Regions from separate parts of the Homo sapiens genome. Here region 2 is linked to region 1. The links come from fine-mapping of genetic effects on plasma protein levels. A gene starts in region 1. The other region holds a variant in brackets. All regions are shown on one strand. Distances are from middle to middle.

Region 1 (4,117 bases):
TGACCTTATCTTCCCGCCCCCTAGCTCCTCCCCGATGCCATAACCCCGCCCCTAGCTCCTCCTCGAGGCTTTAGTCCCTCCCTCTAGCTCCTCCTTGAGATTCTAACTTCGCCCTTTAGCTCTCCCCGCCCCTAGTTTTCCCCTGAGGTCATAACTCCGCCCCAGTCCCTTCTTGAGGTTTCAGCCCCACCCTGTAGCTCCTCCCCGAGGTCGTAACCCCCGCCCCTTGGCCCCTTGAGGTCCTAGCCCAGCCCCGTAGCTCCTCCCCAAGCTTATAACCCCGCCCCTAGCCCCTCCTTGAGGTTCCAGCCCCGCCCTCTAGCTCCTCCCCGAGGTTATAATCCTGCCCCTCAAGAGTCTAGTCCCACCTTCTAGCTCCTCCCGAGGTTATAACTCCGCCCTCTGGTTACGCCTCGAGGTTATAACCCCGCCCTCTGGCTCCGCCTCGAGGTTCTAGCCCCGCTCCTAGCTCTTCCTCGGTCTGTAACCTCTCCCGTAGCTCTTCCTTGAGGTTCCAGCCCCGCCCTCTGGCTCCTCCCCGACACTCTCTCCCCGCCCCAGGCTCCGCCCCGAGATTGCAGCCCAGTCCCTAGGCCCGGTCCCCGACCTCCGGGCCTTCCCGGACATCCCTTTCCAGCTGCGCGTTCGGAGTATCCCGGAGCTGTTACTCATTCCCGGCCTCCCGCGGTCTCGAGCGCTTTCCGGGTTATTCATCGCGGCCCCAACACCCTGTGGCCACCCGCCCTGACTCAGTTCCTTCTCGAATTCCTCGACCCAGAGCCCCCCACATTTTCCGGGGAAGTAAGTGAGAGTCGCCTCAGTGAGAGGGAAAGGTCCTGAGGGACAGTCCCGGGTCTCCAGCACTGGCTCTGCGCCGCTCAGTCAGCCTCCCTTTGGGCCTTTTGTAAAAGGGGGTCCTGTCCCCCCGTTTCTCAGAGGGGGAGACCCAGCAGCGTGGAGAGCGCTGGGGGGCGCTGCAGGGTCAGATCCTGCGTATTCAAGCACTGGCTGTGTGATTTTAGGCCAGTTATCTAACCTCTCTGTGCCCTAGTTTCCTCTGCGAAACGAAATTAATAAAGTCCCATCGCCTAGTTTGAAATTGCAAGGAAGAGGCTTCGAAGAACTCCATTTAAAAAAAGAACACTTGGGCCGGGCGCGGTGGCTCACGCCTGTAATCCCAGCAGTTTGGGAGGCCGAGGCAGGTGGATCATCTGAGGTCAGGAGATTGAGACCATCCTGGCTAACAGAGTGAAACCCGGTCTCCACTAAAAATACAGAAATTAGCCGGGCGCGATGGCAGGCGCCTGTAATCCCAGCTACCCAGGAGGCTGAGGCAGGAGAATCGCTTGAACCCGGGCGGCAGAGGTTGCAGTGAGCCGAGATCGCGCCACTGCACTCCAGCCTGGGCGACAGAGTGAGACTCTGTCAAAAAAAAAAAAAAAAAAAAAAAAGCACTCACTAAATTATGTAAAGCTAAATGCCTTTGCTCCACTAATATTTCCTTAGCTACTGAGTGCCAGGTACTGCGCCGCGTGGCGTTGCACAAAGCACGAGAATTACTATTATTTGATTAGGGAGGATGCTGAGGACTGAACCGCATTCCTCCAACTCATCCTCTGACAACCCCCAACCCCCTCAATTAGACCCTGTTCCAGGCGCAGGCGTTCGGGACCCAGCCCCTACCTGGGACGCAGGTGTGGAGCAGCAGCAGCAGCGGCAGCAGCGGCGGGTGACCCATGTCGCGAGGGCAGCTCCTGTGCGCGGGGTCCCTGCACGTCTTCTCTCCTTCTGGCCTCAGGAAGGAGGCAGTTTTGTGGCCCCAGGGACTCCTCCCAGACGTTTTGCGAAAGAGCGAGTCAGCCCCAGATGCGTGGGCGCCTCCCCCTCCTCCCGTACGAACCTCCTCCGCCACAAACTTCCCTTCCCGGGGCGCGGCCGGCTGGTGGTGAAGGGGCTGGCTCGGCCCTGACTCATGGAGTTGTGATCACAGCTCTGTCCCCAGATTGCCTGGGTGCAAATCCCAGTTCTCTCTCTTCCTAACGTGGGACCCGGGGCAATCGCTCTCCACTGCTGTAAAATGAGGATAAAAACTTTGACGGTAAATATGAATGTGGCTGATTATTTGGCTAACAGGATTTTTGTTAGTTTTGTCAGGAGGGATACTGGTATTTTGGAAAATGTCCTTATCTAGAGATGCATCCTGAAATATGCATCTCTTAAACACTTAAAACACTTAACCCTTGCTTTGCTTCCCGCTGTGCCCCCAGCTCCTGGACCAGTGCCCAGCACGAAGTAGGTCCTTGGTAAATGTTAAAGGAATGTGTTGAGCCCTCCATTTTGGCCAGCAGCTATTCCAGGCATTGCACCTACATTAAAACACTTAATGGTGAAACCCCGTCTCTACTAAAAATACAAAAATTAGCCGGGCGTAGTGGCGTGTGTGTGTTACTTAGGAGGCTGAGGCAGGAGAATCGCTTGAACCCGGGAGGCGGAGGTTGGGTTGCAGTGAGCCGAGATCGTGCCACTGCACTCCAGCCTGGCAACAGAACAAGACTCCTTCTCACAGAAAAAAAAAAAAAAAAAAAAAAAGACACTTCAGCCAAAAAAGTAGATATCACTGTTACGACAATGGCTGTATGCTTAGGTGGGATTCTGGTTTTTGTTTGTTTGTTTGTTTTTGCAGATGCTTACTAGAGTATTTAGTGGTGAATGTTATTGATGTCTGCATTTTTTGTTGTTGTTGTTTTGGGGATTTTTGTTTTGTTTTTTCTTTTTCTTTTGTTTTCATTTTGATGTCTGTATTTATTTTATAATATTTTAGAAGAGGTCAGATGAGGTGGCTCATGCCTGTAACACCAATGCTTTGGGAAGCCAAGGCAGGAGGATCACTTGGGGCCAGGAGTTCAAGATCAGCTTGGGAAACATAAAGAGCCCTCATCTTTCCAAAAGAAATTAAAAATAAAATAAAATTAGCTGGGTGCAGTGGCCCGTACTTGTAGTCCTAGGTAGTTGGGAGGCTAAGGTGGGAGGACCGCTTGAACCTGGGAACTGGAAGCTGCAGTGAGCTATGATTGCACCACTGCACTCCAACCTGGGCAACAGAGCGAGACCCTGTCTCAAAAAAATAATAAATAAATAAATACTTGAGTAGAAAATAAAGGCAAAATAGCCAAATGGTTGTATCAATTATATAAAGGTAATCAGTATATAAGGGCATATTATGCCATTCTGTCTCCTTTTCTGTGGGTTTGAAAAGGCTTATAATAAGTTTTTTCTTTCTTTTTATTATTTATTTATTTATTTATTGAGACGAAGTCTCACTCTGTCACCCAGGCTAGAGTGCAGTGGTGCAATCTCGGCCACTGCAATCTCCGCCTCCTGGGTTCATGCAATTCTCCTGCCTCAGCCTCCTGAGTAACTGGGATTACAGGGGCACGCCAGCACACCCGGCTAATTTTTGTATTTTTAGTAGAGATGGGGTTTCACCATGTTGGTCAGGGTGGTCTCGAACTCCTGACCTCAGGTGATCCACCTGCCTTGTCCTTCCAAAGTGCTGGGATTACAGGCATGAGCCACTGCACCTGGCCAAGTTTTTTTTTTTTTTAAGTAAAATAAAATACTAAAGATAAAATTGTCTCCCCGTCTTAGGATGCATCTAACTAAACAGAGCAATTTAATGTAGGTGCAATGCCTGGAATAGCTGCTGGCCGAAATGGAGGGCTCAACACATTCCTTTAACATCTACCAAGGACCTACTTTGTGCTGGGCACTGGTCCAGGAGCTAGGGGCACAGCAGGACGCAAAGCAAAGTTCCCACCTTTTGTTGTGTTGACAGTGGGGAGCAGATATGTGTTATCTAATCTTTCACTGTCTGAGAGGGATAAGCAAACTGGAGAAAACAAAGCAGGCTGAAGGAAGTATCTGGGTGCAAATGAGGTGTGAGCTGTTTTAGGTGGGTGATCCAGGAGGGGTTCCCTGAGCAAGTGGCATTCAAGCAGAGGCTGAATGCAGTGAGGGAAGAAGTAGGGCAGATGGGCAGGGAACCTTTCCAAGGAGCAGGAACAACCAGTGCAAAGGCCTTGAGGTGGAAGCCTGATGAGATTCTAGGAACAGAAGA
Region 2 (5,518 bases), 22 kb before region 1:
ATGAATACATAATAGTGGTGTATATTTACAGGACATATGTAATATGGTTTTGGGTTTTAGTGTTTTTTTTTTGGAGACAGAGTCTGGCTCTGTTGCCCAGGCTGGAGTACAGTGGTGGGATCATGGCTCACTGCAGCCTTGACCTCCCGGGCTCAAGGGATCCTCCTGCCTCAGCCTCCCATGTAACTAGGACCACAGGCATGCCCCACCACATCCAGCCAATTTTTTTTTATTTTTAGTGGAGATGAGGTCTCACTGTGTTGCCCAGGCTGATCTTGAACTCCTGAGCTCAAGAGATCTTCCTTTCTCACCCTCCCAAAGTGCTAGGACTACAGGCATGAGCCACTGTGCCTGTCCTTCCATGATGTTTTGATATAGGCACACAATGTGTTAGTTTATAAAGTTTGTAATAATTTATCACAGGCAGCCCTAGGAAACTAATATAGCCAAGTTTCCTGTTTCTTCTCTATATCACATCTGCTGGGGCTACATGTCCAAGGTGGCTTCTTCACCCACTTGTCTGGTGCCTGGGCTGAGATGGCTGAAACATCTGGGGCTCTATCTCCACATGGCATTTATACATGAGTAGCTTGGGCTTCCTCACAGCATGGTGGTCTCAGGGCAGTAGTACTTTTACATGGCAACCAGCTTCCCCAGAGTGAGCGTTCTAAGATTCAGAAAGTGAAAAATGAAAGTTTCTTAAAACTTGGTTCCAGAACATAGCACAGCAAAACTTCCACCACATTCTACTGGTCAAAGCAGTCACAGAGTCACTCATATTCAAGAGGCAGAAGTACAGACCTCACTTCTTTAAGCCACTACAGTGACAGGTGGTGATATGTCATTAGAGAAAGCCCTAAACAAGAACCTTGTCCCTCACCTGCCCCCAAATACCATGGAAGATGTCTTTTTTTTTTTTTTTTTTTTTTTGGGGATAGTCTCACTGTGTCATGCAGTGGTGTGATCTTGGCTCACTACAACCTCCTCCTCCTGGGTTCAAGCGATTCTCCTGCCTCAGCCTTCCGAGTAGCTGGAGTTACAGGCACCCACCACCTTACCCGGTTAATTTTTGTAATTTTAGTAGAGACGGGGTTTTGCCAAATTGGCCAGGCTGGTCTCAAACTCCTGCCTCAAGTGATCTGCCCACCTCGGCCTCCCAAAGTGCTGGGATTACAGGCGTGAACCACCACAGCCAGCCGAAGATATCTTATTTTTTCTTCATTAGCCACAAGATTTGATGGGGAATGTAATTTTTGTCTCCATGGGTTGCCTTAGCAAATGATGAGAAGAACATGAATTTTTCAATATTGTGCTCCTAGAGTGCCATTGAAATGGTAGTTCTGTCTCTTTTTCTGACAGTCCTGAGGCATCCCGGGAAATAGAGCCCAGCCTTTATCCCCGGTCCCCAGCACATCAGGGGAAGTGCACTCCTGTCCTTATTCCTCACTGCAGTGCATGCAGGGAGTTCTGGCCATCAGGTTATCTTCTATCCGTCTCCTTTCCCAAAGCATGCTGGGAAATGTGGGGATGTCTCCTTAGAACAACAAAATAGTTGCAACCTTTGAAGTTTAGGAGAAGACTAGAAGGTTAGTGTTCAGTGTGTGATCTGGAAGCTTGCATTTGTAAGAATTAAAGAAAGAGGAGGCCAGGCACGGTGGCTCATGCCTGTAATCCTAGCACTTTGGGAGGCCAAGGTGGGCAGATCACCTGAGGTTGGGAGTTTGAGACCAGCCTGAACAACATGGAGAAACCCTGTCTCTACTAAAAATACAAAATTAGCCGGGTGTGGTGGTGCATGCCTGTAATCCCAGCTACTTGGGAGGCTGAGGCAGGAGAATCCCTTGAACTAGGAGGTGGAGGTTGTGGTGAGCTGAGATTGTGTCATTGCACTCCAGCCTGGGCAACAAGAGTGAAACTCCATCTCAAAAAAAGAAAAGAAAAGAAAAGAAAAAGGAAAAGGAAAGAAACATGAAATGTGGCTTGACGGTGAAGGACAGGTTTATTTTAGAGAAAACCAACCTGAGGGGGGCTTTTGGCTGAGTTAGGTTAGAGAGCCCTTTTTTTTTTTTTTTTTTACAGACTAAGGATATTTAAGAGTTTTGGAAGGGGGTGCTTATCTAGGTTCGGAATGTTTTCATGTGAGGAAAAGTTTATTGTGGGGTTGGAAAGTCTCTGGTCGGAAGGGAGGCTATCTGGGGGTTGGCATGTTTCTGGTCAGAGAGGGGTTTATCTTAGGGTTGGAATGTTTCTGGTTATGCTGATGGTAGCCATTAGGCTGATGTTTTGGGGCTGGATTTAGCTGATTTTTTTTTGAGACAGAGTCTTGCTCTGTCACCCAGGCTGGAGTGCAGTGGTGCAATCTCGGCTCACTGCAAGCTCCACCTCCCGGATTGACGCCATTCTCCTGCCTCAGCCTCCCGAATAGCTGGGACTACAGGCACCCGCCACCACGTCCGGATTTAGCCGATTTTTAATCAAGAGGAACTAAGAATGGTGGTGTTTGTTCAAGATGGCAGTGCTCCTGCTCTGTCAGCATTTGGAGTCCAGAAATAGATGTGGAGGCAGCCCCCAGGAGGACTTCCAACCTAGGCAGGGGCCTCAAACATGACCCCTGATTCCAGGAGCCTGTGAAAAGGTGTCCCCCACCATTTATCCTCCCAAAGATAGACACTACAAAGAAGGGCATACCTGGCCTTGTCCACTGGTACAAAATCTTTATGTAAGTATAAAATAAATAATATGAATATTAATTAATAACAACAACACAACAGCGGCAACAATATTAATAATAACAAGAGCTCTCCCATTGGCCCACGGCCTTCCTCCAGCTTTTCTCTTCTGCTTCACACAACTTTGTGAGATAGCTGTTTTCATAGCTGGGAAAACTGAGGCCCAGAGAGGTCGGCACACTGGCCTGAGGTCACACAGCAAGTCTGTAGGGCTGGGAGCCGAGGGAAGGGCAAAGGGGTCCCCCGGATCCAGCCAGGGCAGAGAGGGGGATTTCAGGTTTAGGTCCAGAGGAGAGTGCCTCCCCACAGTCTGGCAGTCATTAGCAGGGTGATGGTG[A/G]GGCTGAGATGGGCAGGGCCAGGCTGAGGAGCAGCCCCACTGCGGTACTGGACATCCAGGTCTGGGTGGTTACAGCCACTTTTAGTACAGCAGGAGACATCAATGTGGTTCATGCTGAAGGCGTCACCCAGGTGGGCATGTTGGCACATTGAGGCGGTTGCACAGCCTCTTACCATATAGCTTTGGTTTTTCGGTTCTGAGGAAAGAGAAGACGGAGTGAGACTTCCAGCTCCTGGGCCCAGGACTGGAATTCTCCAGTAGGTGACCTGCCACCTTGCAGTGGGTGCCACCTTCACTACCACCTAGAGAAAGCAGCAGTTCTCAGGGCCAGGTGTGGTGGCTCATGCCTGTAATCTCAACACCTTGGGAAGCCAAGGAGAGAGGATAGCTTGAGCCCAGGAGTTCCAGACCAGCCTGGACAACATAGCAAAACTCTGTTTCTACAAACATAAAAAAGAAAAAAACAGCTGTAGTCCCAGCTACTTGGGAGGCTGAGATGAGAGGATCACTTGAGCTCAGGAGATGGAGGCTGTGGTGAGTTATGATCACGCCACTGCACTCCAGCCTGGGTAACAGAGTGAGACCCTGTTTCAAAAAACAAATAAAAAGAAAGAAAGGAAGGAAGGGAGGGAGGGAGGGAGGGAAGAAGGAAGGGAGGAAGGGAAGAAGGGAAAGAAAAGAAAGAAAGAGAGAGAGAGGGAGGAAGGAAGGAAGGAGAAGGGAAAGAAGGAAGGAAGGGAGGAAGGAAGGAAGAAAGAAAGAAAGAAAGGGAAAGAGAGACAGAGAAAGAAAAGGAAAGAAAAAAAAAGAAAGAAAGGAAGCGAGCAGCGGTTCTTAAAGTGTGGCTCAGGGACCCCAGAGACCCTTTCAGGAGATCTGTGATTTCACATGGCTTTTTCACTCTCATAAGTGTACAATGGGCTTTTCCAAAAACTCCAGGACATGTGATATTGCAAGAGACTGAAAGCAGAAGCTTCCATGAGGACCCAGCTGTCTTCTATTAAGCTGGACATTAAAGAGATGTGCAACACAGCAAAATAATGCCAGTTTTCTCATTACGCTTTTTTTTTGTTTTTTTTTTTGAGATGGAGTCTCACTCTGTCACCCAGGCTGGAGTGCAGTGGCACGATCTCGGCTCACTGCAACCTCTGCCTCCCGGGTTCAAGCAATTCTTCTGCCTCAGCCTCCCAAGTAGCTGGGACTACAGGCGCGACCACCATGCCCAGCTAATTTTTGTATTTCTAGTAGAGACGGGGTTTCACCATATTGGCCAGGCTGGTCTCGAACTCCTGACCTTGTGATCTGCCCGCCTTGGCCTCCCAAAGTGCTGGTATTACAGGCGTGAGCCACCGCGCCTGGCTGGTTTTTTTTTTGTTGTTTCTTTGTTTGTTTTTTTAAGACAGGGTCTCGCTCTGTTGCCCAGGCCGCAGTGCAGTGGTGCAATCTCCGTTCACTGCAACCTCCACCTCCCAGGCTCAAGTGACCCTCCCACCTCAGCCTCCCAAGCAGCTGGGACTACAGGCATGCACCACCATGCCCAGCTAACTTTTGTATTTTCTGTAGAGACAGGATCTTGCTATGTTGCCCAGGCTGGTCTCAAATCCCTAGGCTTAAGTGACCCGCCCACCTTGGCCTCCCAAAGTATTGGGATTATAGGCATGAGCCACCATGCCTGGCTATCATTACATTTTTTCTTTGGAAACTATACTTATTTTTCATTAAAATGTTATTTATCTTAATGTGTAATGAGTTTTTATTGTTATAAGATGAATTCATAAATAAATCTTTAAAGATTTCTCAGTTTTGGCTGGGCACGGTGGCTCACATCTGTAATCCCAGCACTTTGGGAGGCCGAGGCAGGCAGATCATGAGGTCAGGAGATCGAGACCATCCTGGCCAACATGGTGAAACCCCGTCTCTACTAAAATTACAAAAATAAGCTGGGCATGGTGGCTCATGCCTGTAATCCCAGCTATGCAGGAAGCTGAGGCAGGAGGATTGCTTGAACCCAGGAGGGGGAGGTTGCAGTGAGCTGAGACCATGCCACTGCACTCTAGCCTGGCGACAGAGCAAGACTCCATTTCAAAAAAAAAAAAAAAAGATTTCTCAGTTTTAATTTTAATTTAATTTTATTTTATTTTATTTTTTGGGACGGAGTTTCACTCTTGTTGCCCAGGCTGGAGTGCAATGGCACAATCTTGGCTCACCGCAACCTCTGCCTCCCAGGTTCAAGTGATTCTCCTGCCTCAGCCTCCCGAGTAGCTGGGATTATAGGCATGTGCCACCATGCCCGACTAATTTGTATTTTTAGTAGAGATGGGGTTTCACCATGTTGGTCAGGCTGGTCTTGAACTCCCGACCTCAGGTGATCTACCCACCTCGGCCTCCCAAAGTGCTAGGATTACAGGCGTGAGCCACCACTCCTGGTTCTCAGTTTTAATTTTAATGTGGC

What was found. PIP is the posterior inclusion probability: the model's chance that the variant is causal. Protein levels are from the aptamer-based SomaScan assay of Sun 2018.
Region 2: its variant is fine-mapped to the plasma level of the PLAUR protein (Sun 2018, PIP 0.95). The variant lies in the coding sequence of PLAUR. If it changes the protein, the assay may bind it differently, which can mimic a change of level.

What each region holds. Positions count from the first base shown.
Region 1 is chr19:43,668,383-43,672,499 of GRCh38, forward strand. PLAUR (plasminogen activator, urokinase receptor) reads right to left here and starts at 1,787. Exons shown (of 7, transcript NM_002659.4): 1 at 1,684-1,787. The coding sequence starts at 1,738. LOC124904724 (a long non-coding RNA gene) reads left to right here and starts at 382. Exons shown (of 3, transcript XR_007067264.1): 1 at 382-801; 2 at 1,644-2,098. RefSeq lists silencers at 286-515, 556-635 and an enhancer at 1,556-1,855.
Region 2 is chr19:43,645,882-43,651,399 of GRCh38, forward strand. It overlaps PLAUR (plasminogen activator, urokinase receptor), which reads right to left. Exons shown (of 7, transcript NM_002659.4): 7 at 2,698-3,262. The coding sequence ends at 3,009. Among named protein-coding and RNA genes, the nearest start is that of CADM4, 8.8 kb to the left of the region's middle. The variant A/G (reference allele first, on the strand shown) is at 3,067.